7 separate regions of the Homo sapiens genome follow, and all the other regions are linked to region 2. Evidence: fine-mapped expression QTL. A gene starts in region 2. Each other region holds a variant in brackets. All regions are shown on one strand. Distances are between the middles of the regions. Region 1 overlaps SFI1 (SFI1 centrin binding protein). Region 2 holds the start of PISD (phosphatidylserine decarboxylase). Region 3 overlaps PISD (phosphatidylserine decarboxylase). Region 4 overlaps EIF4ENIF1 (eukaryotic translation initiation factor 4E nuclear import factor 1). Region 5 overlaps SLC5A1 (solute carrier family 5 member 1). Region 6 overlaps OSBP2 (oxysterol binding protein 2). Region 7 overlaps SFI1 (SFI1 centrin binding protein).

The links. PIP is the estimated chance that this variant, and not a neighbour inherited with it, causes the effect. A credible set is the group of variants that fine-mapping cannot tell apart.
Region 1: its variant is the best candidate, but not a certain one, in a credible set for the expression of PISD in hippocampus (GTEx, PIP 0.70).
Region 3: its variant is the best candidate, but not a certain one, in a credible set for the expression of PISD in neutrophils (CEDAR, PIP 0.82).
Region 4: its variant is the best candidate, but not a certain one, in a credible set for the expression of PISD in monocytes after LPS (Fairfax 2014, PIP 0.60).
Region 5: its variant is the best candidate, but not a certain one, in a credible set for the expression of PISD in whole blood (INTERVAL, PIP 0.62).
Region 6: its variant is the best candidate, but not a certain one, in a credible set for the expression of PISD in monocytes after LPS (Fairfax 2014, PIP 0.89).
Region 7: its variant is the best candidate, but not a certain one, in a credible set for the expression of PISD in cerebellar hemisphere (GTEx, PIP 0.63).

The regions. Positions count from the first base shown.
Region 1 is chr22:31,591,851-31,595,941 of GRCh38, reverse strand. All of the region lies in intron 15 of SFI1 (SFI1 centrin binding protein), which reads right to left. Among named protein-coding and RNA genes, the nearest start is that of MIR7109, 28 kb to the left of the region's middle. RefSeq lists an enhancer at 2,491-3,299. The variant T/G (reference allele first, on the strand shown) is at 2,048.
Region 2 is chr22:31,660,044-31,664,134 of GRCh38, reverse strand. It overlaps PISD (phosphatidylserine decarboxylase), which reads left to right and starts at 1,920. Exons shown (of 8, transcript NM_001326411.2): 1 at 1,920-1,991. The coding sequence starts at 1,927. RefSeq lists enhancers at 1,880-2,179, 2,420-2,469, 1,687-2,886, 2,860-2,999, 2,295-3,188 and 1 more.
Region 3 is chr22:31,633,817-31,637,907 of GRCh38, reverse strand. The region is part of intron 3 of PISD (phosphatidylserine decarboxylase); the gene reads left to right. Among named protein-coding and RNA genes, the nearest start is that of MIR7109, 14 kb to the right of the region's middle. RefSeq lists a silencer at 3,754-3,803. The variant A/T (reference allele first, on the strand shown) is at 1,616.
Region 4 is chr22:31,481,410-31,485,500 of GRCh38, reverse strand. The region is part of intron 2 of EIF4ENIF1 (eukaryotic translation initiation factor 4E nuclear import factor 1); the gene reads left to right. Among named protein-coding and RNA genes, the nearest start is that of EIF4ENIF1, 6.4 kb to the left of the region's middle. The variant G/AG (reference allele first, on the strand shown) is at 2,292.
Region 5 is chr22:32,048,932-32,052,931 of GRCh38, reverse strand. It overlaps SLC5A1 (solute carrier family 5 member 1), which reads right to left. Exons shown (of 15, transcript NM_000343.4): 2 at 2,918-2,989. Among named protein-coding and RNA genes, the nearest start is that of SLC5A1, 7.7 kb to the right of the region's middle. The variant A/C (reference allele first, on the strand shown) is at 2,063.
Region 6 is chr22:30,783,238-30,787,237 of GRCh38, reverse strand. The region is part of intron 2 of OSBP2 (oxysterol binding protein 2); the gene reads right to left. Among named protein-coding and RNA genes, the nearest start is that of MIR3200, 54 kb to the right of the region's middle. The variant G/A (reference allele first, on the strand shown) is at 1,677.
Region 7 is chr22:31,604,018-31,608,108 of GRCh38, reverse strand. SFI1 (SFI1 centrin binding protein) reads right to left here. Exons shown (of 33, transcript NM_001007467.3): 19 at 3,705-3,800; 20 at 3,164-3,240; 21 at 1,679-1,781; 22 at 76-172. Among named protein-coding and RNA genes, the nearest start is that of MIR7109, 15 kb to the left of the region's middle. The variant A/G (reference allele first, on the strand shown) is at 1,801.

The DNA of each region.
Region 1 (4,091 bases), 68 kb after region 2:
ACTTCTCCCAATGCATGCCCCTCCATCTCACCCCTCTGTCCTAAGATAAAGTACACTGAACTTAAGGTAATTTCCAAAACTGTCATTTTACTAGTTCCATGTACCTGCTCAAATATCTTTCGAATATCTATCTATAGGGTCAGCCCAATCTCTTCAGTCTGGGCCTCCCCATCTTGCCCACTCCAGCCACCATCCTCACCCTCTCACTCACAGGAAGCCTCTCCCAGATACTTCCATGCTCAGTCTCCCTCAGCACTAGCTCTGAGCACTGGAAGAACTTGTGGCTGACATGACTGGGGACACGTGGATCTGTTCTCTTGAATTGGTTCTCAGTTGTTTCTTATCTCCTCACAAAAATTTCACCCTCCTACAAAGTCATCAAAAAGATCTTCCTCTTGATCAAGAAGAAAGCACCTGGACTTTGGAACTGGAGATGTGAATTAACCTGGCTGTACCACTTACTGGTTGTGTTACCATTTATCATTTTGAACCTGACCTCTCAGAATCACTGTGAAAAGGAAATTATTAATGAAGATAATGATGCCATGGGCAGAATGAGTTTATGTATTTGTTTTCTGTCTCCCATCACACAATGCCCAACACAGTGGCAGACATACAGTTAGTGATTAATAATTTCTTCATTACAGGCTGGGCGTGGTGGCTCATGCCTGTAATCCCAGCACTTTGGGAGGCCAAGGCGGGTGGATCACGAGGTCAGGAGTTCGAGACCAGCCTGGCCAACATGGTGAAACCCCGTCCCTACTAAAGATACAAAAAATTAGCCGGGCGTGGTGGCGCACACCTGTAATCCCAGCTACTTGGGAGGCTGAGGCAGGAGAATTACTTGAACCCAGGATGTGGAGTTTGCCGTGAGTCAAGATGGTGCCACTGCATGCCAGCCTGGGCGAAAGGACAAGACTCCAACTCAAAAATAAATAAATAAATAAATAAATAAATTATTATTATTTCTTCATTATGTCCCACCATATACTAAGAACCTGCTGTGGGCAAGTTTGTCCCTGTGGGAACTAAAAAGATGTAGATCTGCTCCTTGAGCTTTCTAATTTTTTTTTTTTTTTTTTTTTTTGAGACAGAGTCTCACTCTGTCGCCCAGGCTAGAGTGCAGTGGTGTGATCTCAGCTCACTGCAAGCTCCGCCTCCCAGGTTCATGCCATTCTCCTGCCTCAGCCTCCTGAGTAGCTGGGACTACAGTCGCCCACCACCACGCCCGGCTAATTTTTTGTATTTTTAGCAGAGACAGGGTTTCTCCGTGTTAGCCAGGATGGTCTTGATCTCCTGACCTCGTGATCCGCCCGCCTTGGACTCCCAAAGTGCTGGGATTACAGACATGAGCCACCAGGCCCGGCCTTTTTCTTTTCTTTTTTTTTTTTTTTGAGACGGCGTCTCGCCCTGTCACCCAGGCTGGAGTGCAATGATGCGATCTCAGCTCACGGCAACCTCCATCTCCCAAGTTCAAGCAATTCTCCTGCCTCAGCCTCCCGAGTAGCTGGGATTACAGGCATGTGCCACCAGACCGGGCTAATTTTTGTATCTTTAGTAAAGAGAGGGTTTCACCATGTTGGCCAGGCTGGTCTTGAACTCTTGACCTTGTGATCCGCCCGCTCCGGCCTCCCAAAGTGCTGGGATTACAGGTGTGAGCCACTGCACCCGGCCCGACCTTTGTAATTTTGTTGATGACTATCATTTCAAGACTTCAAAAAGCCAGGTCTAGCAGAACAGGAACTAAGTGTTTCGGGGAAATGACACTTAAGAATGTCTGCCAAGGTGAGGCAAGGTCCCACCGTGCTCTGATCCAGAAAGCTAATGGGCTGCTTTAATGGAGCTCTCAGTGGCTAATAATGAAGGTTACAAACAGGCTGTTTTGAAAGCCCTTGAAATAAAGATGGACACCTCCCTCTCCCTCTCCCTCTCCCTGTCCCTCTCCCTCTCCCTCGTCTCCGTCTCCCCATGGTCTCCCTCTCATGCGGAGCCGAAGCTGGACTGTACTGCTGCCATCTCGGCTCACTGCAACCTCCCTGCCTGATTC[T/G]CCTGCCTCAGTCTGCCGAATGCCTGCGATTGCAGGCACGCGCCGCCACGCCTGACTGGTTTTGGTGGAGACGGGGTTTCGCTGTGTTGGCCGGGCCGGTCTCCAGCCCCTAACCGCGAGTGATCCACCAACCTCGGCCTCCCGAGGTGCCAGGATTGCAGACGGAGTCTCGTTCACTCAGTGCTCAATGGTGCCCAGGCTGGAGTGCAGTGGCGTGATCTCGGCTCACTACAACCTACACCTCCCAGCCGCCTGCCTTGGCCTCCCAAAGTGCCGAGATTGCAGCCTCTGCCCGGCCGCCACCCCGTCTGGGAAGTGAGGAGTGTCTCTGCCTGGCCGCCCATCGTCTGGGATGTGAGGAGCCCCTCTGCCTGGCTGCCCAGTCTGGAAAGTGAGGAGCGTCTCCACCCGGCCGCCATCCCATCTAGGAAGTGAGGAGCGCCTCTTCCCAGCCGCCATCACATCTAGGAAGTGAGGAGCGTCTCTGCCCGGCCGCCCATCGTCTGAGATGTGGGGAGCGCCTCTGCCCCGCCGTCCCATCTGGGATGTGAGGAGCGCCTCTGCCCGGCCGAGACCCCGTCTGGGAGGTGAGGAGCGTCTCTGCCCGGCCGCCCCGTCTGAGAAGTGAGGAGACCCTCTGCCTGGCAACCACCCCGTCTGAGAAGTGAGGAGCCCCTCCGCCCGGCAGCCGCCCCATCTGGGAGGTGAGGAGCGTCTCCGCCCGGCAGCCACCCCGTCCGGGAAGGAGGTGGGGGGGGGTCAGCCCCCCGCCCGGCCAGCCGCCCCATCCGGGAGGGAGGTGGGGGGTCAGCCCCCCCGCCCGGCCAGCCGTGCCGTCCGGGAGGGAGGTGGGGGGGTCAGCCCCCCACCTGGCCAGCCGTGCCGTCCGGGAGGGAGGTGGGGGGGTCAGCCCCCCGCCCGGCCAGCCGCCCCGTCCGGGAGGTGAGGGGCGCCTCTGCCCGGCCGCCCCTACTGGGAAGTGAGGAGCCCCTCAGCCCGGCCAGCCAGCCCGTCCGGGAGGGAGATGGGGGGGTCAGCCCCCCCGCCTGGCCAGCCGCCCCGTCCGGGAGGGAGGTGGGGGGGTCAGCCCTCCCCCCGGCCAGCCGCCCCGTCTGGGAGGTGAGGGGCGCCTCTGCCCGGCCGCCCCTACTGGGAAGTGAGGAGCCCCTCTGCCCAACCAGCCGCCCCATCCGGGAGGGAGGTGGGGGGGTCAGCCCCCCGCCCGGCCAGCCGCCCTGTCTGGGAGGGAGGTGGGGGGGTCAGCCCTCCGCCTGGCCAGCCGCCCCGTCTGGGAGGTGAGGGGCGCCTCTGCCCGGCCGCCCCTACTGGGAAGTGAGGAGCCCCTCTGCCCGGCCAGCCGCCCCGTCCGGGAGGGAGGTGGGGGGGTCGGCCCCCCGCCCGGCCAGCCGCCCCATCCGGGAGGGAGGTGAGGGGGTCGGCCCCCCGCCCGGCCAGCCGCCCCGTCCGGGAGGGAGGTGGGGGGGTCAGCCCCCTGCCCGGCCAGCCGCCCCGTCCGGGAGGGAGGTGGGGGGGGTCAGCCCCCCTGCCCGGCCAGCCACCCCGTCTGGGAGGTGAGGGGCGCCTCTGCCCGGCCGCCCCTACTGGGAAGTGAGGAGCCCCTCTGCCCAACCAGCCGCCCCATCCGGGAGGGAGGTGGGGGGGTCAGCCCCCCGCCCGGCCAGCCGCCCTGTCTGGGAGGGAGGTGGGGGGGTCAGCCCTCCGCCTGGCCAGCCGCCCCGTCTGGGAGGTGAGGGGCGCCTCTGCCCGGCCGCCCCTACTGGGAAGTGAGGAGCCCCTCTGCCCGGCCAGCCGCCCCGTCCGGGAGGGAGGTGGGGGGGTCGGCCCCCCGCCCGGCCAGCCGCCCCATCCGGGAGGGAGGTGAGGGGGTCGGCCCCCCGCCCGGCCAGCCGCCCCGTCCGGGAGGGAGGTGGGGGGGTCAGCCCCCTGCCCGGCCAGCCGCCCCGTCTGGGAGGGAGGTGGGGGGGGTCAGCCCCCCTGCCCGGCCAGCCACCCCGTCTGGGAGGTGAGGGGCGCCTCTGCCCGG
Region 2 (4,091 bases):
CCTTGGCCTCCCAAAGTGCTGGGATCATAGGGTGAGCCACGGTGCCCAGCCTCTTAAAAAAAAAAAAAAAGAGATGGAGTCTCACTATGTTGTCCAGGCTGGTCTCTTTTTTACTTCCTTTTTTTTTTTTTTTTTTTTTTTGAGACGGAGTCTCACTCTGTCACCCAGGCTGGAGTGCAATGGCGCGATCTCGGCTCGCTGCAAGTCCGCCTCCCGGGTTCACGCCATCCTCCTGCCTCAGCCTCCAGAGTAGCTGGGACTACAGGCGCCCGCCACCACGCCCGGCTAATTTTTTTTGTATTTTTAGTAGAGATGGGGTTTCATCGTGTTAGCCAGGATGGTCTCAATCTCTTGACCTCGTGATCCGCCCACCTCGGCCTCCCAAAGTGCTGAGATTACAGGCGTGAGCCACCGCGCCCGGCCCAGGCTGGTCTCAACTCCTTGGCTCAAGCTATCCTCCCACCTCAGCCTCCCAGTGAGTGGGGATTGCAGGCGTGAGCCACTGCGCCCGGCCAAAACCAATTCTATACATTTGTTTTTTTCTTTTCCGACTTTTGAAAACCATGACAAAGGGAGGTTTCTTCCCCCCAATACCAAACCTGGTGCCTTTTAAGCTCTCTGTAGGAGCTGAGTATGCCCTAGTTGAACTTAAGCCAACTACACAGAAATACCTGCAGGGACCAGGGAGCATATTCCTCCTCCTGTCAAATGCCTGGTGAAGGCAACTGTGATTATCAGCTTAGCAGATGAAAAAGTAGGGCTGCATTCCTTCAGTTGTTGGACCCAAATTCTGCCAGATTCTGACAAAGGGCTTAAAAGGAAGAATGTTTAGGCCAGGTGCGGTGGCTCACGCTTGTAATCCCAGCATTTTGAGAAGCCGAGGCGGGCGGATCACGAGGTCAGGAGATCGAGACCATCCTGGCTAACATGGTGAAACCCCGTCTCTACGAAAAATATATATAAAAAAATTAGCCGGGCGTTGTGGCGGGCGCCTGTAGTCCCAGCTACTCGGGAGGCTGAGGCAGGAGAATGGCGTCAACCCGGGAGGCGGAGCTTGCAGTGAATCGAGATCGCGCCACTGCACTCCAGCCTGGGCGACAATGAGAGACTCTGTCTCAAAAAAAAAAAAAAAAGAAGAAGATGTTTAGGACATGGTTTTTGGAGTCAGAGACGTATGTTCAAATTCTGGCTTCACTATTTTATAGTCTTTGGGCATATGCCCTTTATGTACCCTTGAAGATGTTGCTTAACCTTCCTGAGCCTCAGGTACCTCATCTTTAAAATGGGGATAATGTCTCGGGCCTAGCTGCGAGTCTCTAGTCAGTGCTCAGTAAAAAGTAGCAGACATGATTGAAAACTCGTTTTCCTCTTACAATTGAAGATAGGAACCTTTTCAAGAGCAAGCACCAGGCACCGAATTTAACGACTGGTTGCATTTCTAGGTGATCCAAGACCGTTTGCCCCCGGTCTCCCTGGCAGCACAGCGGTAGGAGATAAGAATGATATGACACCATGCTTGCAAAGTGCTCACAACACACTCCGGCGCTTAAAAAACGAGAGCTGAGTCATGGATGCCCAGTTTCCCCATCCGTAAAATGAGCAAGTTCGATCACTTGAAACGACATTCTTGGATCTTGGATGACTCAGATTTTCCAGGTACATGAGGAAAGGCACCCAGAGGGAAGGAGGAGGAGTGGCAGTGCTGCGACCAAGCCCAGGTTTAGCGAAACCTACAGCTCCACTAGTTCCCCTACCTCCGCAGGTGCCAAGCGGGTTAGGTGGGGAGTAGCCACAGGGCGGAGCTTAGTCGGCTCCGCCCCCAACCCGCGCTTTTCTCATTGGCCCACTGAACTCGAGACTCGTGACGCCTTAAGCGTGCGCCCAGCGTGTGAAGGGGGCGTGGCACGCTGAGAAGGAGCAGACAAGATGGCGACGTCCGTGGGGCACCGATGTCTGGGATTACTGCACGGGGTCGCGCCGTGGCGGAGCAGGTATAGCAGCGCGGAGAGACTACCTTGGGGCGTGGGGCAACCTGGACCAAGCTGGGGTCTGAAGAGAGATGTTTCTGTGTCGCGGGCTCGCTCTGAGGCGAGCTCGGGTGGAGACGGAGCCACCTTCACCTCGAGCTTAGGAGCAGGTGCGACTGCTCCTGCGTAGGGCGGTCCGGATTTACTTAGGGTGTGGCCTAGAAGCTCGCGCTTTGCCCTTTCCAGCTAGGTGGAAGTTCACGAGGGACAAAAATCAGATGAAATAGGCTACCTGCCCGTCTCTTGAGTCGAGGCAGGGCTTTCAGATGTTCAGATGCCATTTTCTCGTGTGTTCGTTTTCGTAGAAGGAATGATGTCCTGTGGGAAGGACACTAGATTGAGTGTCAGGCAACTTTCATTTCTGGATCTTAGTCTTTGAAGCTAGAGGGTTAGGTTAGGTAATCTCAAAACAATATGTTATGGGGCTAGAGTCTTGGTTACCCTTGTGACCCCCAGCTGTTAGATTCTTAGAAATGTGGGAGACTTGAGGGGTCTTCTGAGTCCAGCTGTCTCTCTTTGGAGTTAATGAGATTGAGGCTCCGAGAGAGGGAGGGATTTGCTCAAGTTCACCTAGCCAGTTTGTAGCAGAGCCCGGACCCCCATCAAGGTACCCCCTCACGCGACGATCTTTCTCTCAGGCTGCCCGCCGTGAGGGCAGTGGTTATACAGAAAATAGCTTAGAGCATTTGGAGTGTCGGAAAATGGATTAAAATGTAGCTGTGATTCAGAGTCGGCTGCCTGGTGTCATTTCAAAGAGCTAAGATTTGAGAGATGCGCCATACTTGTGTGTTTCCTACAGGGTTCATTTTGTCAGCGTTGATCAGAGGATAACCTATTGTTTTGGGAGGAGACGGACACTGGATTTGGACTGAGAGGGAACAGAAACCATCATTGGTCTTGTTATGAAAGCGTCACTCTTTCATCATTAACTGTACAGAAATGATTATCTCTCAGGAGAGGGCTCTGCATTGTGGTGGTAACTGTTAGAATTTGGGCAGGAGACTTTGTTTTCAATGTTATTACCAGGCGTGCTGTGTATGAGTCAACCCTGAATTCATTTAAAGTGTGTCACAGGCTGGGCGCGGTGGCTCACGCCTGTAACCTCAGCACTTTGGTAGGCCAAGGTGGGTGGATCACTTGAGGTCAGGAGTTCGAGACCAGCCTGGCCAATGTGGTGAAACCCTGTCTCTACTAAAAAATACAAAAATTAGCCGGGCATGGTGGCAGGCACCTGTAATCCCAGCTACTTGGGAGGCTGAGGCAGGAGAATTGCTTGAACCTGGGAGGCGGAGGTTGCAATAAGCCAAGACTGCGCCGCTGGAGTCCAGCCTGGGCGACAGAGTGAGACTCTGTCTCAAAAAAATTAAAAATAAATAAAGTGTGTCACGAATTGAAAGGACTAAAATGAGACTCTTAAAAAATTGTTTTTTGTTGTTGTTATTTGTTTTGGAAGTCAGAGCCTCACTCTGTTGCCCAAGAGGGAGTGCAGTGGTGTGATGATGGCTCACTGCAGCCTCCACCTCCTGGTCTCAAGCAGTTCTTCCACCTCAGCCTCCTGAGTAGCTAGGACCACAGGTGCACGCCACCCCGCCCAGCTGCATTTTTTTTGGGGGTGGGGGTGGAGACAGGGTTTCACCATGTTGCCCAGGCTGGTGTTGAACTCCTGGGCTCAAGTGATCCACCCACTTTCACCTCTCTAAGTGCTGGCATTACAGAAGTGAGCCATCGCAGTCCACCTAAAATAATTTTTTTAAATGATGAGAGGAGGCTGTACCTCAGTCACCATCATTAAAAGGGAAAGAAAAAAAGCTATGTTTTAGTACCAGTGTAGATAGATAAGGCTAGACTTAGATGCAGTGGGTGAGAGAGATGAAGATTTGGGTACAATAAGAAACCTTAATTTTCAAAGGTATTCTATATCAAGATAGAAATGATATTAATACACAAACCAAAAAGATAACATTTCTGTGGGTTTTTAGTAAACCAGTGCCTATTTGTGAGACATGTAAATGAAAACCTTATATTTCAGGTAAGTTTTTCAATAACTGGGTGATGTGTGACAGG
Region 3 (4,091 bases), 26 kb after region 2:
GTTACAAACATTCTGAGTGAGAAATTTCAGTCAGAGCTTGTAATGTGTAGGACGTGACATTAGGGAGTGAAGAGCTTTCCTCTTCACTGATTCAAGATAGCCAGTGCCGGGTGAGGGGAGCGGGACACTTGCTTCTTCAGAAGAGTGGATCCAAAAGTTGACCTCTTCCCCAGACTGAGTCAGCATGGGAAGAGAATTGTGCTTTCACAAAAGCAGAGATGCTTTTCTGTAGCTTTCACTGTTTCTTCTTTGCTCTGGAAAATGGAGGACGAAGGAGTTCTCAGGTCCTCAGTCACTGGAGTAAAGTGACATGCACGTCCCAGCGTGAGTGCCTGAATGGGTCTCTCAGGTCTGAACAGAACAGCCCTGTGGCTGCCGCGAGCTGGTGCAGGAGGAAGTACAGAGGAGGGTCCGGTTCAGAGTGGCGTGAGACCAGGGTTAGATGACTGTTGCCAGTTTAGGGCCAGTGAGAGATTTTTAATGGTAAATATGTAACCTCTTTTAAAAAAAAACAAAAACAAACAAAAAACACAACTTTTTCTTTTTTGAGAGAGTCTTGCTCTGTTGCCCAGGCTGGAGTGTAGCGGTGTGATCACAGCTTACTGCAGCCTCAACCTCCCAGGCTCAAGCGATCCTCCCACCTCAGCCTGCTGAGTAGCTGGAATTACTGGCGTGCACCACCATGCCCGGCTAATTTTTCTATATATATATATATATATATATATATATATATATATATATATTTTTTTTTTTTTTTTTTTTTTAATTTATTTATTATTATTTTTTTTTGTAGAGTTTTGCCGTGTTGCCCAGGCAGGTCTCAACCTCCTGGGCTCAAGTGATATAGCTGCCTTGGCCTCCCAAAGTGTTGAAATTATAGGCGTGAGCTACTGCGCCCAACGAATATGTAATCTTTTTAAAAAAAGGGAAAAGGTTGGGCGCGGTGGCTCACACCTGTAATCCCAGCACTTTGGGAGACCGAGATGGGTGGATCACGAGGTCAGGAGTTCAAGACCAGCCTGGCCAACATGGTGAAACCCCGTCTCTACTAAAAATACAAAAATTAGGCTGGGCGTGGTGGCTCATGCCTGTAATCCCAGCACTTTGGGAGGCTGAGGTGGGCAGATCACAAGGTCAGGAGATCGAGACCATCCTGGCTAACACGTTGAAACCCCGTCTCTACTAAAAAAAATACAAAAAATTAGCCGGGCGTGGTGGCGGGCGCCTGTAGTCCCAGCTACTTGGGAGGCTGAGGCAGGAGAATGGTGTGAACCTGGGAGGCAGAGCTTGCAGTGAGCCGAGATCGTGCCACTGCACTCCAGACTGGGAGAGAGAGTGAGACTCCATCTCAAAAACAAAAAAAAACAAAACCCAGAAATTAGCTGGGCGTGGTGGCGGGTGCCTGTAATCCCAGCTACTTGGGAGGCTGAGGCAGGAGAATCGCTTGAACCCGGAAGGTGGTTTTATTGTTTTGAGGCATGGCCCTGGGGGCTTGTGGCAAGGGCTGAGGTGTTTGGGGAGCAGCAGTGCAGGAAAGGCCTTACTCAGCTGGGCTTGCAGGTATGCTCACTCCTGTCTGAGCGCTGCTTCCTTGTTTCTAGCCTCCGTTTAGAAT[A/T]AAAAAAAAATGTATAGTACAGTATTCCAATTCATCAAAAGGAATAAAGACAGATCAGCCTGTCTGGTCTACCACCATTCAGCCTAAGCATAAGGCAGAACCCTGTGAAGTGGCCTGTGTCCTCCTTCTCTCCCTGTCCCCTTCCTGGAGCCCCATGGGCCTGTGCTCAGCACGCGTCCTGGCGCCGCGGTGTACCTGGTAGTGGGCAGTATCGGACGTGTTCTCCATGTTGGTGAGCGATGTACATGCTGTAGCTTTATTATTCTCATCTATAAATAGGGCCATTCATGCCCTCATAAAGTTGTTAAATAAGAGTGATGTGTATGTAAATACCTGGCCCCATGCTGGCAGGGAGTGGAGCTTTAGTACTATTTTACTTCTTACCTAATAGGTGTGAGTGTGGAAATGGGCAAATAGTCAAGTTGGCAGGGAAGCAGAGCCTCCTGCCTGCCCCAGTGCCACCTGAACTCCTGTAGTGTTCTTATGCCACTGGAACTGGCTGGCAGGGGCCAGCTCTGACCTCAGAGAATTGTGGGCTCACTCTAGGGCAGGAGGAGATCGCAGAGGGCGGAACGGTGGCTCATACAGCCATGCCCCCAGGTGGCCCAGGACCCACCTGGGAGCTACCTCCAATGGCTTTGAGCGGTCAGTGTGTGGACAAGCGGAGGGACCGTGTCTCAAGAATATGTGGAACTCAGCGGGGCATGGTGGCTGACGCCCGTAATCCCAGCACTTTGGGAGGCAGGCAGATCACCTGAGGTCAGGAGTTTGAGATGAGCCTGGCCAACATGGTGAAACCCCATCTCTACTAAAAATACAAAAATTAGCCCAGTGTGGTGGCAGGTACCTGTAGTCCCAGCTACTTGGGAGGCTGAGGCATGAGAATTGCTTGAACCCGGGAGGCAGAGGTTGTGGTGAGCCAAGATCATTCCACTGCACTCCAGCCTGGGGGATAGAGTCAGACTCTGTCTCCAAAAAAAAGACATGGAACTTAAACACAAGGCTAAACTTCTGGGCTGGAAGGAATCGAGGGATGGCCGACTCAAGATACCTGCAGCCCTGCATGAAGCTGTCTGCCAGGAGGCTCTACCTAAAAGCAGTTTTGTTTTGTTTTGTTTTGTTTTTTGAGACGGAGTTTTACTCTTGTTGCCCAGACTGGAGTGCAATGGCACGATCTCAATTCATTGCAACCTCCACCTCCCAGGTTCAAGCGATTCTCATGCCTCAGCCTCCTGAGTAGCTGGGATTACACGTGCGTGCCACCACACCTGAGTAATTTTGTATTTTTAGTAGAGACAGGGTTTCACCATGTTGGCCAGGCTGGTCTTGAACTCTTGACCTCAGGTGATCCGCCCACCTCAGCCTCCCAAAGTGTTGGGATTACAGGCATGAGTCACCGTGCCAGGCCTAAAAGCACTTTTTCTTTTTCTTTTTCTATTTTTTTTTTTTTTTTTTTTTGAGATGGAGTCTTGCTCTGTCACCCAGGCTGAATGCAGTGGCAATCTCAGCTCACTGCAACCTCTGCTTCCTAGGTTCAAGCGATTCTCCCACCTCAGCCTCCCGAGTAGCTGGGATTACAGGCGTGCACCACCACACCTGGCTAATTTTTGTATGTTTAGTAAAGATGGGGTTTCACCATGTTGGCCAGGCTGGTGTTGAACTTCTCACCTCAGGTGATCTGCCCACCTTGACCTCCCAAAGTGCTGGGATTACAGACACTAAGTCACCACGTCTGGCCTAAAGCACTTTTTCTGAATTCCACCCCAGTCTGCCCTTCCTGAGTGCCTGGGCAGGGCCCTTGGGGAGCTGCTGGTGGGGCTCTGAATGTGCCAGGGGTATCCGGGACATCTTGCAGGCTAGTGGGACTGCCAAAAACGATTCTCAAAGATGAGTGGGGAGTTGGGCAGGGATAGGAGAATCTGGTGTGTAGAGAAATAGCCTGAAGGCACTTTGTGCTTGCCTGGCCTCTCTGCCCAGACGTTGGGGAGGCTGATGCCTGCCTGTGGTTTCTTGTACTAGCCGTTAAGACCCCAGCCATCTTCCTTGAGGGGCTTCTGCCAGCCCCCAGGGAATGAGAATTAGCCAAGAGCCAGGAAATGAGAATTAGCTGAGGACACCTTTTACCCCTGTTCCGCAGCTACCTTCTGTTCCCTGGCACAGGGCATCCCCTTAGAAGTAGTGCATGAAATTCACACAGCTGGGACCTGGCAGAGAATACAGGTGGCTTGACTGAGGCAGGGAGGCCTCCATCTGCAGGTGGCCTGAGAGCCTGCAGAGCCTCACAGTGGCACTAGGTGGCACTCCCACCCAAGGGAGTCCTAACAGAGTGGGAGGCGTGGAAATAAAGGACTCCATGGCCTGAAGGAAATAAATACAAGGTAGGAAAGTAAATTTCCAGACAATTTTTTTTCCCTAATGGAAATTCACTTGTAAGTGATTGTTCAAAATCCAGAGGCATTTCCCCACTGAAAATATG
Region 4 (4,091 bases), 180 kb after region 2:
AGTCCAGGCAGAGAGGCTTTTGAATCACTTTCACACACCGATCAGAGGTTAACATGTATATTTCATCTTTGTGTATGTTTCTATCTTTATGCTTACATCATTTTTAGGGAGATATTTCTCTTTCTTAGGGTAGGACTTATGTTTCTTTGCAGTAAAGATTAAGAACCTCAGTATTGTCCATTTTTGACAGTCCAGCCTCAGAATTCTGTCATACGTAGATAAATGTGCCTTGAAGAACTGGTTAAAAGCATTTTTTAGCTTAATGACAGTGGAGCTTAGATTTAAGTCTTTTCTACCAAATTAATTGGAAATAGGTTTACTTTCTACTCTTAAGAGGATTTAGTTAATGACAATTTTAGGATAGTGTTTAGGCAGTGTTAGGGTAGTGCTTTCATGGTTTTCAACACTCTAGTAATTCTATGCGGGACTTGGGGATAAAGAAGTCTTCTCCCTTTAAAGAGAGCTTGAAATGATTATGTGTTCCTAGCACTATAATAAATATGTTAGTTCCACAACTGGAATAATATTCAAACCATCCTTCTTCCTTGTCTATGTACTGAGATCAAAGTACTGGAATAAATAGACTTTAATGATGTTTCTGCCACTTCAAGTTCACGGGCTAGAAGATCTAGAAGCAGTAGAGGGAAACTGTTTTCACTGGTGATTTTGAGGTGGAGTTTCACTCTTGTTGCCCAGGCTGGAGTGCAATGGCGCCATCTCCGCTCACCGCAACCTCCGCCCCAGGTTCAACCTATTCTCCTGCTTCACCTTCCTGAGTAGCTGGGATTACAAGCATGCGCCACCACGCCCGGCTAATTTTTGTCTTTTTAGTAGTGACAGGGTTTCTCCATGTTGGTCAGGCTGGTGTCAAACTCCCGACCTCAGGTGATCCGCCCACCTTGGCTTCCCAAACTGCTGGGATTACAGGTGTGAGCCGGCCGGTGATTTTTTTTTTTTTTTAAATAGGTGGTGTATTCTGTGGAAACTTGTAGCTGTGTATGTTTACTTACAGGGTCAAAAAAACACGTTGGCCAGATGAGAGGGCCCCTTAACCATTGACCCTTCTTAGTTTAGTGTTCAGTTGCTTTCTGGGATAATGTTAGTAGTTTGTTGTTCAGAATTCGAAGAGTTTTTGTTTTTCCCCCATGAGTAGAAGAAGTATAAATGTTTTGGTCAGGTGCTTTTCAGAGTAATGTACCAGAGTTTCCTTTTGTGTGAAGACATCCTTTAGTTAGCTTGTTTCGCAAATGTTAATATGCCTGGGGGATCACCTTTAGGCCTTGGGAAAGGAATTCTGAGTGGTAAGCAGGGGTGGTCCTGAAGATTCTACTTTTTAACCCACTCCCAAGTGGTGCACATGCTGCTGGTCCACTGACTATACTTTAAGTATCAAGGCTTTGGTCTTCCTTAGAGAACTTGATAAATGGTGTTGGTGGTGTCAAGTAACTCAGATGCATAGTTATTCTTTGGGGTTCAGATGATGTTCATTGTGCTTCGAAGAATATTTTAGGACCTCAAGTTAGAGTCACATTGGGTGCATTCAGACCTACTCCTAAATCTCATTGTGGGATGGTTATAAATGGGTTTATCATATGCACCTGTTACCCTGAGGGTCTTGAACCCCTAAGTTATAAATGCTGGTCTGTTTTCTAGGCCACATTCCTAAGACCAAAAGCTATATTTTGGTAGTATCTAAGTATGCATTTTTAAAGTGATCGGATCATGTTGAAGGACTTTTGGAGGTTATAGAGTGGGGTCTCACCTGAAAGTTATGGTTTAAGAGTGGTTTAGACAGTGGTTCTCAAAGTGTGCTCCCTGAACTAGCATTAGCATCATCTGGTAACTTGTTAGAAATACAAATCTCAGGCCTCTTCTCAGTGGTATTAAAGGAGAAACTTGGGGAGTAGAGCTTAACCGTCTGCATTTAACAAGCTCTTCAGGGGATTCTGGCTCTGGTTCAAGTTTGAGAACCATTGGCTTAAGAAATGATCACCTGCTCGCTGGGTGTGGTGGCTCACACTTGTAATCCCAGCAGTTAGGGAGACTGAGATGGGAGGATTGCTTGAGCCCAGGAGTTCAAGACCAGCCTGGGCAGGATGACAAGACCCTGTCACTACAAAAAAAATTTAAAAATTAGCTAGGTATGGTGGCGTATTGCCTGTAGTCTCAGCTACACAGGGGACTGAGGTGAGAGAATCGTTTGAGGCTGCAGTGAGCCATCATCGCGCCATTTCACTACAGCCTGTGCAACAAAAAGAGACCCTGTCTCAAAAAAAAAAAAAAAAAAAAAA[G/AG]ATCGTCTCCTGGCAGTGGTGCTCATTCAACTTTTTCTTCACCAGAAGCCCTTGTTCACCAGTTCTGGAATATAGTACCTGCTATTCTGTTAGTGATGCCATCTTCTGCTTGAAATACAAAATAGAAATGTTTTAGGCCATCCCACTATTCAGATCCATGTGGTTTTCTTTTCTGTTTTTTTGTTTTGAGACAGAGTCTCTGTCTGTCGCCAGGCTGGAGTGCAGTGGCCCTATGTCGGCTCACTGCAACCTCTGCCTCCCGGGTTCAAGCAATTTCCCTACCTCAGCCTCTTGAGTAGCTGGGACTACAGGCGCGTGCCTCCATGCCCAGCTAATTTTTTTTACATTTTAGTAGAGATGGGGTTTCACCATGTTGGCCAGGATGGTCTCGATCTCCTGATCTCATGATCCACCCACCTTGGCCTCCTAAAGTGCTCTGATTACAGGCGTGAGCCACCACGCCTGGCCTCACATCCATGTTATTTTCGTCAAGTGAATAGACTAATCTGTTTTTTTTTGTTTGTTTTTGAGACCGCGTCTCACTCTGTCACCCAGGCTGGAGTGCAGTGTTGCAATCTTGGCTCACTGCAACCTCTGCTTCCCAGGTTCAAGCAATTCTCCTGCCTCAGCCTCCTGAGTAGCTGGGATTACAGGCACGTGCCATGATGCCCAGCTAATTTTTGTATTTTTATTAGAAACGGGGTTTCACCATATTGGTAAGGTTGGTCTCAAACTCCTGACCTCAAGTGATCCACCTGCCGTGGCCTGCCAAAGTGCTGGGATTACAGGCGTGAGCTACCGCACCCGGCCAAATAGACTAATCTTATAAAGGATACATACGTTATGCTGTTCTTCCTTTGCTCCTGTGTTTTGCCACTGATTCCTTATTAAATGACTGTCACCTGCCAGTTGGACAGGGAATAAAAGCAGAGACACTCAGAACATTCAGCTTGATACTGACCAGTGTTAAACATGCGTATTAAAGTTAAGTGAATGTTGAATTATCTTAGTTTAACTTCATGTGGAATTTTTTTTTTTTTTTTTGAGACAGGCTCTCACTGTTATCCAGGCTGGAGTGCAGTGGTACAGTTAACTCACTGCAGCCTCGAACTCTGCATTCATGCGATCCTTCCACCTCAGCCTCCTGAGTAGCTAGGACTACAGGTGTGTGTCACCACACATGGCTAATTTTTTCATTTCTTTGTAGAGATAGGATCTCATTATGTTGCCCAGGCTGGTCTCCAACTCCTGACCTCAAGCGATCCTCCTGCCTCAGCCTCCTAAAGTGCTGGAATTCCAGGTGTGAGCCACTGCATCTGGCCCCATGTGGACTCCTCATAACCTTGACTAGTTACAAAGTGGCATTATTGTAGTCATTAGTGTCTCCAGGGATCTTTAAGGGAGGCCATCCTAATTTGTGGCTGGTAGGCCAATTGGTCATAGCAGTCAGTACAGCCATGTTTGTCTTTCCTTTAAAACAATCAGGAAAATGGACAAGCAGTTGAAGTGACTGACTTGAGTCATCCTAGCCTTCTTGGATATAATCAGAAGACTTGAAGCCAATCCCCAGAGAAAAGAGTAACTGATTTAAATCCTAGGTTGAAACAGGAATCAGGTGGTCCCTTTTTCCAGTACAGAAATCTTATTTGATAACTAAATGTATCTTTTATAAACTGAGTAGTAACTCAGGTGGCATTTCTGTGACAAATTTAGGTATAAACTTCTTAAACTAATTTAAGGATACCTATTTATGTTGGAGAAGGTAGAATTATGGTATGAAAAGTCATTGGGAGGACAAGG
Region 5 (4,000 bases), 390 kb before region 2:
CCTGAATTCTTACCACTGTCTATACTGTGTGGCCCCTGCACCAGAGGCCAGAATATAGACTCAGGTCTCAGGTGACACCACTAAGGGGGACCAGCATGAGGTTCTGGGGACATGTCCCTCTTCTCCCTCATTTCTCTTTAATTCAGCCCATATTTGTCAAGTGCCTTCTTGCAGTGCAAGGCCTTGGTGTTGTGAGGCCAAAAAAAAAAAATTAAGAAAAGCGTAGGCCTAGCTCTCATCACAGGGCACTGGGATAAGTAAGAGCACATGCAGGTAAAAAGCAAGTAGAGCAGGGAGAGAGGGCCAAATGGACCTGGGCCAGAAGAGGTAGGAATTGTTTCCCCCAGGCTTATGAAGAGTCAAGTACTTATCTTTCCTTCTCACTTCTTCCTGGAGTGCATCCCTGCCTCTCTCATGTCCAGTTGCCTGGTTCCCTCTCTTCCTCTCCAATTCATGAGCTCCCCACCCATGTGTTGGGACTACCAGGTTTTTCTAAGACACCCTTTGGCCCCTCTGGTGACATCATAAGTGGCTGGACTTTGACCTGATCATTAGGTTTTAGAAACATAACGATAAAATCAGATATATTTTACCCAAGAGGACTTGAAAAGTTTGAGAACCTGTCCTCTTTCTTCAGGGAAAATTTTCATCAGGGTCTCTGGTCGGCCCCAAATGAAATAATTTCTTGGTTTTCAGACCAATCTTTAGGCCACACCAATTGGCCTCATAAATTTCCATCTCAAAAGACAAGGAGAAAGAGACCTGAATAACCAGAAGATCAGAGGAAGTCTTAGCTCTGTCATTATCTTGTGTAAACGTGGGCAACCCATGGGGTTAATCATCATCTTCACTCTACTTACCTCACTAGATCATTGAGGATTCAATCAGATAAGTGATATGACAGTCCTTCAATAGGTTTCAGTTGCAAAGAAGAACAAGAGCTAAACCTGAGGGTTTAATGTGTGCCAGGCTCTGTTCTGAGACTGTCTGTGTGTGTCCTCAAAACAAGAAATCTGGCCCTCCACCTATTTTTGCAAATAAAGTCAGCCACATCCATTCATTCATCCATTTTCCTTGGATGTTTTTGTGTTACAACAGCAGAGTGGAATAGTTGTGACAGAGATTGCATAGCAGCAAAGCTAGAAATATTTAGAATCTGGCCCTTTACAGAAAAAGTTTGTCAACTATTTTGTTGTTGTTTTGTTGTTGTTGGGTTTGGGATTTTTGTTGTTGTTGTTTTTGTTTTTTGGGGTTTTTGTTGTTGTTGTTGTTGTTTGAAACAGGGTCTCACTCTGTCCCCCAGGCTGGAAGGCAGTAATGCAATCATGGCTCACTGTAGCCTTCACCTTCCCAGATCAAGCGATCCTCCCACCTCAGCCTTCCAAGTAGCTAGGACTACAGGTGCACACCACCACGCCCAGCTAGTTTTTAATTTTTCTGTAGAGATAAGATCTTGCTATGTTGCCCAGGCTGGTCTTGAACTCCTGAGCTCAAGCAATTCTCTCACTTCTGCCTCCCAAAATGCCTGGATTACAGGTGTGAGTCACTGTGCCTAGCTGAAACTTAGAATTTTAGTCCTGGAAGAGCCTTTGAGATTCCTTATCTGACCAGCTCCACATTATAGAGGAGACTCTCAGAGACTCAGAGATTAATGAATTGCCCAATGTCACAAAGCTGGAACAAGCCAAATCCTGTGGCTCCTTGTGCAGTTCCCACTCCCTGCCCTTTGGAATGCTTCTTTCTGAATCTAAGGGAGCTGATCCCATGGAGCTGGCTCTGCCAGTAGTCCTGGTAGGTGTGATCAAACTCTCTTCCAAAACAAGAGTCTCTCACTGGGCTGTGTACCTGGGGCCTCACTTCTCTGTGTAATTTCTGCTGCCAATATCCAAAGAGTGGGGAATTCCCCTTCGAAGCTCAGCCCCTGAGCTTCACAGCTTTCCTACCATCACATCTCCGCACAGACAGCTGTGAGTGAAACGTGGCAAACCCTGGTGCCACATAAAAAGGGAATCCTGGGCCACCAACCAGCCCACAGTTACGTAAGGTACAGTTTCATGGTTTC[A/C]TGTTACTCAGATGAGTTGCCTTGGCTTGCCTCAAGCATGACTCAGGCTTCCGGGGACCTCCCAGCCCAGATCCCTATGTAAGCTGACTCTTCTTGTAATTTCAATCCTGGAGTCCTTGCTCCTTCCCTCTGATTGTCCCTTGCTTCTATCCTCAAGCCAACACACAAACTGTTTTTCTCTCTGGGCCTCATTCAGTTTTCAGGAACAGAGTCTGTTTCCAGAGTTTCTGAATCTTCACCTGTTTCAGGTCATAACCACTCCTTTCAAAGCCCCCTAAACCCCAGGAATGCCCAAAACCAGTCTCTCCTCTATCCAGTATGTTTTCAGACTTTATGAGCTCTGATTTTCTCCTACTTTTCTTGTGGGTGACAACCCAAACCCTCTCTGTCTCAGGTATATCAACCCAGGTCAATACAAGTTGTTCCTTCTTCCAGAAGCTTCTCTGCTGCCCACTCTTCCTGTGGCACAAAGCGACTGGGATAAAGGCAGATGGAGGGGCAAAGGGCAAGTGAGATGTCAGCAGTGGAGAGCCTCTGACCCCTGTGATATGTTCCTTGGGCCAGCGCATTTGAGAACTAATATTCTGGTTATGGATTTATGGACCAATGATAGGCTTTGAACCAACTTTGTATTTTATTGAAGGACTCTAAGGGTGATTTATTTAAAGGCTATTCCCTTACTACAAGAGATTAAGGGTGCCCAGGAGACCCGATGAGCATGAGACTCACTGTCAAGAATCTGGTTGGGATCCTTGAATCCTAGAATCACCACCACCCAAAGCCAAGAAGAAAATGAGTTCCTAAAGGGAGTATCAGTTAAGCAGTTATGTAAATAGCATTTCAGAGAAAACTTACCGGCCACCACACCATACTTCGGCCTGCCAGGAAGAAGCCTCCAACAGTCCCACGATTGGTGGAAAACATAGCCTGAGGAGGAAAGGGTCAAAAATGTAATCGAAAACTAGAAGAGTGGCCTTGCCAGCCAAAAGGACATACCTCCCCATTCGTGCACCTTCTTCTACCCACTCCACTTTCTGAAACACTTTCACATTCCTTCTTCCCCTGCAGCCTCAAAAGACTTAGATGAAGGAGGCAGGAACCTACATTTGACAGACAAGGAAACTGAGGCTCAGAAGATACATACAGCTTACTGTAGGGCTAGTGCGAAATTAGCTTCCAGTATCACTTCCAGCAAGTCACTCCACCTGGATCTGCTTGCTTGTCTGTTAAATGGCAGGAATGGAACTTTTTATGCCTTTCTTACAAGCATATTGAGGTTCCTAATGAATGCTATATTTATTTTAGCCTCCTGAGTAGCTGGGATTACAGCCACATGGTGGCATGTGCCTATAATCCCAGCTACTCAGGAGGCTGAGGTGGGAGAATCATTTGAGCCCAGGAATTCAAGACCAGCCTGGGCAACATAGCAACACCCATCTCAAAAAAAAAAAAAAGAAAAAGAAATATCATACTTTTAAAAAGTACCATATGGGATGTGAGTTATATCTTTGTTACCAGAAAAGTGAAAAAATGCTCTAAGAATGCAAGGCATTTGTACTAAATATTAAATAAAAGACCAGACAAATTCAAGTCTTTCCTCTCTGAGGGTGTAGGTAGCAGGTTGCTGGAATCATCATATATATAGATATAGATATAGATATAGATATAGATATAGATATAGATATAGATATAGATATAGATATAGATTATATATAATATAGATTATATATATATAATGATTATATATATATAATGATTATATATATATATATATATATTTATTTATTTATTTATTTTAGACAAAGTCTCACTCAGTCACCCAGGCTGGAGTGCAGTGGCACGATCTTGGCTCACTGCAACCTCTCTCTGCCTCCTGGGTTCAAGCAATTCTCGTGCCTCAGCCTCCTGAGTAGCTGGGACTACAGGCATGTGCTACTA
Region 6 (4,000 bases), 880 kb after region 2:
TGTGGCCTCCCCAGCCATACTCAACTGTGAGTCTATTAAACCCCTTTCCTTTATAAATTACTTAGTCTTGGGTATGTCTTTATTAGCAGTGTGAGAACGGACTAACACAGGTGGAGAATCTGACTGGTAAGACCTTTCCTGACCGGGCACAGTCGCTCACGCCTGTAATCCCAGCACTTTGGGAGGCCGAGACAGGCGGATCACCAGGTCAGGAGATCGAGACCATCCTGGCTAACACAGTGAAACCGTGTCTCTACTAAAAATACAAAAAATTAGCCTGGTGTGGTGGCACGTGCCTGTAGTCCCAGATACTTGGGAGGCTGAGGCAGGAGAATCGCTTGAACCTGGGAGGCAGAGGTTGCAGTGAGCCGAGATTGCACCATTGCACTCCAGCCTGGGCAACAGAGCAAGACTGTACAAAACAAAACAAAACAAAACACCTTTCCTGATGCATGTTTTGCCCTGCTAGTCTCTCCAGCCTCATCTTGAGGCATCCCCACCCCACCCCACCCCACCCCCACCCTCTGCTCCTGCCACCAATGAGGTGTCTTTAGCTCTCTGAACAGCCAGGATCTCCCCAACCTCTGGGCCTCATTTTCAATTGTACTCCTCCTATCTTCAACAAGTGAATTCCTCCTCACCCTTTAGATCTCAGCTTACATATCACCTCCTCTAGGCAACCTTCCCGACCCTCAAAACTGGGCTAGGTGCCTTTCACCATGGTGAAGCATTGGGCCATTGCATCATGATTTTGTATTGGTTTGTCTGTCTCCCCACAGCAGGCAGTGGGGTCTCTGGCAGGTGTCATTGATTTTTGTTTTCCATGACTCCTCACCTCCTAGTGCTGTCTGGCACAGAGAGATGTACAGTCAATATTTATTGTAAATATTAACTGACTTAAAATACACTAACTGAGGCTGGGTGCAGTGGTTCACACCTGAAATCCCAGCACTTTGGGAGGCTGAGGCAGGTGGATCACTGGAGGTCAGGAGTTCGAGACCAGCCTGGCCAACATAGTGAAACTCCATCTCTACTGAAAATACAAAAAATTAGCTGGGTGTGGTGGCACACGCCTGTAATCCCAGCTACTCGAGGTTGAGACAGGAGAATTGCTTGAACCTGGAAGGTGGAGGTTGCAGTGAGCCGAGATTGTGCCATTGCACTCCAGCCTGGGTAACACAGCGAGACTTCTGTACACACACACACACACACACACACAAACTGTATTAGTCCATTCTCATATTGCTATAAAGATACTACCTGAGACTGGGTAATTTATAAAGAAAAGAGGTTTAATTGACTCACAGTTCTGCATGGCTGAGGAGGCCTCAGGAAACTTATAATCATGGTGGAAAGCAAAGGAGAAAGAAGCACCTTCTTCACAAGGCAGCAGGAGAGAGAGAGCAGGAGCATAGGGAAGTGCCAGACACTTATCAAACAACCAGATCTCATGAGGACTCATTCACTATCACTGGAACAGCAGGGGGGAAATCTGCCCCCATGATCCAGTCACCTCCCACTAGCTCCCTCCCTCGATATGTGGGGATTACAATTTGAGATGAGATTTGGTGGGGATATAGAGCCAAATCATATCACTAACCTCTATAAAATTTAGCAAGAAAGCAAACTTTCTAAATCAGAAAGATTAAGCCTGTTTTTTTTTTTTTTTTTGAGAC[G/A]AAGTCTCACTCTGTCACCCACACTGGAGTGCAATGGCGCGATCTTGGCTCACTGCAACCTCCACCTCCTGGATTCAAGTGATTCTCTTTCCTCAGCTTCCTGAGTAGCTGGGATTACAAGCACCAGCCACCATGTCCAGCTAATTTTTTTTTTTAGTAGAGATGGAGTTTCACCATGTTGGCCAGGCTGGTCTCAAACTGCCGACCTCAGGTGATCCACTTGCCTTGGCCTCCCAAAGTGCTGGGATTACAGGCATAAGCCACTGTGCCGGGCCGGAAAGATTAAGCATTAATGGGTGCAAGGTACTCTCTGCTCCAAAACAGGGCCCACATTACATTGGTTACAGAGGAAAGTTTAAATCTACAATTAAAATGTAATACCAAACAAAATCCCAATGAGGTATTTTTAATACAACTTAAGCTGATTCTAACATTTACATGGAAGAGAAAACTCCAGTACATTTTAAAAATTAAAGAACAGTAAAGGAGGCTGGGTGCAGTGGCTCACACCTGTAATCCCAGCACTTTGGGAGGCCAAGGTGGGCAGATAACCTGAGGTCAGGAGTTCAAGACCAGCCTGGCCTACGTGGTGAAACCTCATTTCTACTAAAAATGAAAAAAGTTAGCCAGACATGGTGGTGCATGCCTGTAATCCCACCTACTCAGGAGGCTGAGACAGGAGAATCGCTTGAACCTGAGAGGTGGAGGTTGCAGTGAGCTGAGATTGTGCCACAGCACTCCAGCCTGGGCGACAGAGCAAGACACATCTCAAAAAAAAAAAAAATGAGGAGGATTTATTCTACCAGCTGTCAAATTATATTATAAAGCTACAGTAATTAGGCACAGGAATTGATAAAATGTCAGTGAAGACGAGTATTCAAAATCAGAGTAAATGCTATTGAGAAAATCAGATACACTTTTAGAAAACATAAAAATTAGATGCCTTTCTCACAACTTGCAGAAAAACAAATTCCAGAAGGATACAATTAAAAGCATACTTGTCAACTGGGCACGGTGACTCATCCCTGTAATCTCAGCACTTTGAGAGGCCAAGGTAGTGGGATCACTTGAGCCCAGGACTTTGAGACCAGCCTGGGCAACATAGCACGACCTCGTCTTTAAAAAAATTTTTTTTTTTTAATCAGCCAGGCATGGTGGCATGTGCCTGTAGTCCCAGCTACTCAGGAGGTTGGGGTGAGAGGATCACTTGGGCCTAGGAGGTCAAGGCTACAGTGAGCTGTGATCATGCCACTGCACTCCAACTTGGGTGACAGAAACCCTGTCTCAAAATAATAAATAAATTAATAAATAAATAAATAAATCACACTTGTTGAATGGTTCCTTCTTTTCCAAGTGATTTGAATGGTACTTTTATCACTAAGTGAATTCCTACAAATACATAAATCTGTTTCTGGAGATGCCATTCTAGTGCTAAGAATGAAAATCTAGGATTTGTATCTGCAGTATTTTAAAAAACAGAGGCCTCTATGAAACTACCCACTCAGGACAGGACCATAGAAACCTACGTCAATCGTAAAGATGCCATCCCTGCTTCTGAAGCCTCTTCCTGGAAGGAAACAATCATTCTGCAGATACATGCTGAAGGCCACTTTCAAGTAACACGGTCCCAAGTGATTACAATGGGCATTTCCCAGACCCAAGCTCTCCTCTTCAGCACCAGTTGGTTTACCTAACTAGGCATTGCCCTAGGAAGCTTCCAGGGTCAAGGGGCAATGTTGCGAGCAAGAGCGCCAGGTTGAGAAGAGGCACATTTGCATCAAGGTGTCATGGTTTTTCTATTTCTAAGAAATCGCCGTAAGTTGCGTTCTTATGCCAGCATTCCCAACGGCAAAGCTTTTACATGACCAGGCAGATTTGGGAAGCAATAGTATTATCGGTATTGCAGTTATTAATTTATGTTTAGACAAAATATGCTCTCTGGCCTGGCGTAGTGGCTCACGTCAGTAATACCAGCACTTTGGGAGGCCAAGGTGGGTGGATCACTTGAGATCAGGAATTCGAGACCAGCCTGGCCAACATGGTGAAACCCCGTCTCAACTAAAAATACAAAAATTAGCCGGCCATGGTGGCACACACCTGTAGTCCCAGCTACTTGGGACTGAGGCAGGAGAATCGCTTGAACCCAGGAGGTGGAGGTTTGGAGGCTGCAGTGAGCTGCAATCACACCACTGCACTCCAGCCTGGGCAACAGAGCAAGACTCTGTCACCAAAAAAAAAAAAAAAAAAAAAAAAAAAAAAGCTCTCTGAATGAGACTCCCTGCCTCTGAGATGTGGTATTTTATGTCTTCGGGGAATGAAAACAG
Region 7 (4,091 bases), 56 kb after region 2:
GCGGGCCACAGGGATCTCCACAACAGCGCTGTCTTCACATTCCTCAACATGACTTGCTTCTGGGGCCCCACTTACCCCTGTCCAGCACCTTCTGGGCCTCCCAGATGGCACAGTCCTCCTGCTGTCGGTAATACATCTGCACTGACACAGCTTCCCGCCACTGGACCAGGACCTATGGGCAGGCAAGGAGCACAGCAAGAGTCACTATACCTCCTGGCTTCCGGGTCCACCCCAGGTCTGTGACGGTGGCTCCTGGAGAGGCAAGGCCAAGCTGTTGCCATTTGCTTCTCACACACGGTCCAGGAAGTAACTGCCTTGCACGCAGACCACTGAGCAATAGGACAGGGCCCCAGCCCCTCACAGGAAGCCCAGCATTTCAGCTGCTGGGACTCTTCTACCAGGATTTACATATCATACCATGCCATAAAGTAGTGAAGTCATTATATACATGGGTCTTAATTCTATTTTTATATATATATAAAATATATATATGTAATTTTTTTTTTGAGACATAGTCTCGCTCTGTCACCTGGGCTGGAGTGCAGTGGCATGATCTCGGTTCACTGCAACCTCTGCCTCCCAGGTTCTAGCGATTCTCCTGCCTCAGCCTTCTGAGTAGCTGGGATTACAGGCATGCACCACCACACCCAGCTAATTTCTGTATTTTTAGTAGAGACGGAGTTTCACCATGTTGGCCAGGTTGGTCTCGAACTCCTGACCCCAAGTGATCCACCCGACTCAGTCTCCTAAAGTGCTGGGATTACAGGTGTGAGCCACTGCGCCCGGCCTCTATTACTATTTAGTAAATGGAACACACCTACGTCGTATACATTCTTTTGTATGAGTGATGCCTACAAAATCACAATAACAAAACACTTGCCCAGGGAATGCCTGGTGCCTGCTCTGCGAGCTGTCATGAACTCCATTCCCACCAAAAAGGCCTCCTCTTCAAGCTCTGAAGCCAAGCAAAGATTCCTGTGTTCCTTCTTCCAGGGGAAGGGAGGCACAGGCTAGCTTCGGGTATTTTTTCTTTTCTTTTCTTTTTTTTGAGACAACCTTGCTCTGTTGTCCAGGCTGGAGTGCAGTGGTGCAATTCGGCTCACTGCAACCTCCACCTCCTGGATTCAAAGAGCCTGTAATCCCAGCACTTTGGGAGGCTGAGGCAGATGGATCACCTGAGGTCATCAGTTCAAGACCAGCCTAGCCAATGTGGTGAAACCCCATCTCTACTAAAAATACAAAAATTAGTCGGACGTGGTGGCGCAAGCCTGTAGTCCCAGCTACTCGGGAGGTTGAGGCAGGAGAAATCGCTTGAACCTGGGGGATGGAGGTTGCAGTGAGCTGAGATGATACCACTGCACTCTAGCCTGGGTGACAGAGTGAGACTGTCTCAAAAAAAAAAAAAAAAAAAAAAAGAAAAAAAGAAAATACTGGTTCTGATAAGAACTAGTTCACTTATGATGTGTTATGTTTCTATTTAATGCATATTGGTTTGTAATTCAGTAAAAAACTAAACATGTGCCCACATGGATGTTTGTGTGTGTGCTGGAGGAAAGTTACCCATTTTCTAGGTTCCTTATTCAGTTCAAATCTCTGGCACCACCCCCTACATCCCACGCCCTCACCAGAACACAGTCCCAACTCTCCTGGGTGACCAGCTTGCCTCCTTATACCTCACCTTGGAACATATGGTCCTTCTGTAATGAGTACTTGCTTGAAAGGTTTTTTTGGCTTCATCCACTCGGGCCATGGTGTTCTCTTTCCAGCGACGTAATGCCCCGCTGCAGATGCATGGGTGCG[A/G]GGAAGGCAGATGACACCAGGATAGAGAGAGAAGGGAGGCTTCTGTGAATCATTCCTACTTCTTCCCCTACTCCTGAGTCAGGGACTCTACACCTAAGAATGTCTGTTTCACCAACACCTATGTTTACTTGCACATCTATGTCCAACAAATGGCTACTGAGCAGCTGCTCTGGGCTGGGCACCAAGAGTGCATGAGGGACCCAGCACTGCTGGAGACCAAACTCCAGGTGCTACGGGGATAACAGGGCATAACCAGGCAGTGGCAACACAGGTGACTCACACTGTGATAAGAGAAGTGTGGAGAGACAGGGAACCTGGAGGAAGGTTGCCTACGCCTCAGCTTGCTGCTGAGTTAGCTCAGGGAGTTCTTGCTTATTCCACCCTGTCTGAAGAGCGGGATGGGTGCTCTATGGGACTCCATATGAGGGATGGAGGCATTTATTTTATTTATTTACTTTTGAGAGACAGGGTCTCACTCCATCGCCCAGGCTGGAGTGCAGTGGCATAATCACGGCTCACTGTGGCCTTGACCTTCAAGGTTCAAGTGACCCTCCCACCTAAGCCTCCCAAGTACCTGAACCACAGGCATACATGACCGTGCCTAGCTAATTTTTTTTATATTTAGTACAGACAAGGTCTCGCTATGTTGCCCAGGCTGGTCTGAAACTCCTGGTGTCAAACAGCCTCCTAAAGTGCTGGGATTACAGGCATGAGCCACCGCGCCCAGCTAAGGATGGAGGTGTTTAAAGTCCACGAGACCCACTGTCCATAGGCCACCAGGAGTATCATGTGCTGAACAAATACAAAGGAAGGAAATGAAAGGGGGCATGTGGGAGGACTGCTGGGAAGGAGTGAGGTTAGAGTTGGGCTTAGAAAGAGTGGCAGAAGCTGCAGAAGCACCCTCCACAGGGGTGAGTGGTGCAGATGGTCTGACAGGGCCTAGAGGTGACGCTGGAGAGTCAGTGACAGGCCTGCAGAGCAAGCTGGAAGGGGACTACTTGGAAATTGACAGGAAAGGGAGTCGCTGAAGCCTCTGGAGTGGAAGAGATGACAAGGTGCCTTGCAAAGCTGAATTTTGTAGGCGTGAAGCAGGGAGGAAAAAGTGCTCAGAAGAGCAAGACAAGTGGCCTTTAAGGCATGCAGGTAACAGCTGCTTTCCAAGGTCCTGCCCTGCACACAGCAGGGGCTTAAGACATGAAGGCGAACCCGTGAGTGAAGTGGAAAAGCCAAGACCATGATATTAGCGACTAGGAACCCGGGATCATCCCCGACCTGGCCCTCAGCAGGACCCCCTAAAAGGCTGGGGTTTGGAGTGCATTCCTTGTTCCCCAGCTGGAGCTTGGGAGGCGCCCGGGAGACTCACCGCAGCAGCTGCCTGTTGTGCTGGCTCTCCCTGGCTGCCACCTCCCGGAGGATGCTTCGCACCCTGCCCTGGTAAGTCTGTAGGGGACAAGGAAGACTGAGGCTGCTCTTGGGCCCACACTTCCCCCTGTTTAGGCAGGCCTCAGAGGTGCATCTACCACAAGGCTGCCATGCCCAGAGAACTCAAAAAGGGTAGGAAGAGGCCAACAGCCCCTGGTCCCAGGGCCAGCAGACCCTCCCAGACGACAGGGAGAAACTGTCTCACAGGCCCTCACCTCCTAAGTCAAACCATGGGACTCCAGGGAAAGGAGCTGCTTTCGCTACAAGGCTAGTACCCACAGACAGCACTTGTTTCCACTTGGCCAAGCAAGAATCAAAGAACCCTATGGCCTAAGGCCCGCTGTCCGGGGCACCTGCTTGGTTTGAGGTGTGTCACGTGACTCTGTTCTGGGACGGACAGGAAGAACAAGGAAGGAAAACAAAGTCTCCAGAAACCTCCCCTGTCCCCACAGCAAGATCAGGAGGGAAGCAGCAGTTCCTACCACCCATGCCTGCAGCGCCCTGTGCAGCACGCTGTGCTGGTGGTGCAGGTCTGCTCGCATCAGCTTCTGCCGCTCCGCTCCCCGCAGGGCCAGGCACTGCAGACAGAGGAGAAAGCAGCTACCGTGGGCTGGGGTCTGAGTTGGGGGTGGCTTCCTGCTTTGCCTCCATTTTATACATCATCTGTGTGAGTGTAAATTAACCTCTCTGGCCTCATCTATAAATACGTGCTTCTTAGGGGTTCTGTGATGATTTGATGAGGTAAGTGCTTGATTTGCGGTAAAAGCTCAATTAATGTGAGTTTAAACATGTTTTACACTCAGTAGGACGTAGGACTCCTGTAAATGGTTAGATCAGGAATTTTAGATGCAGTAAGTTCAAATAAGAAC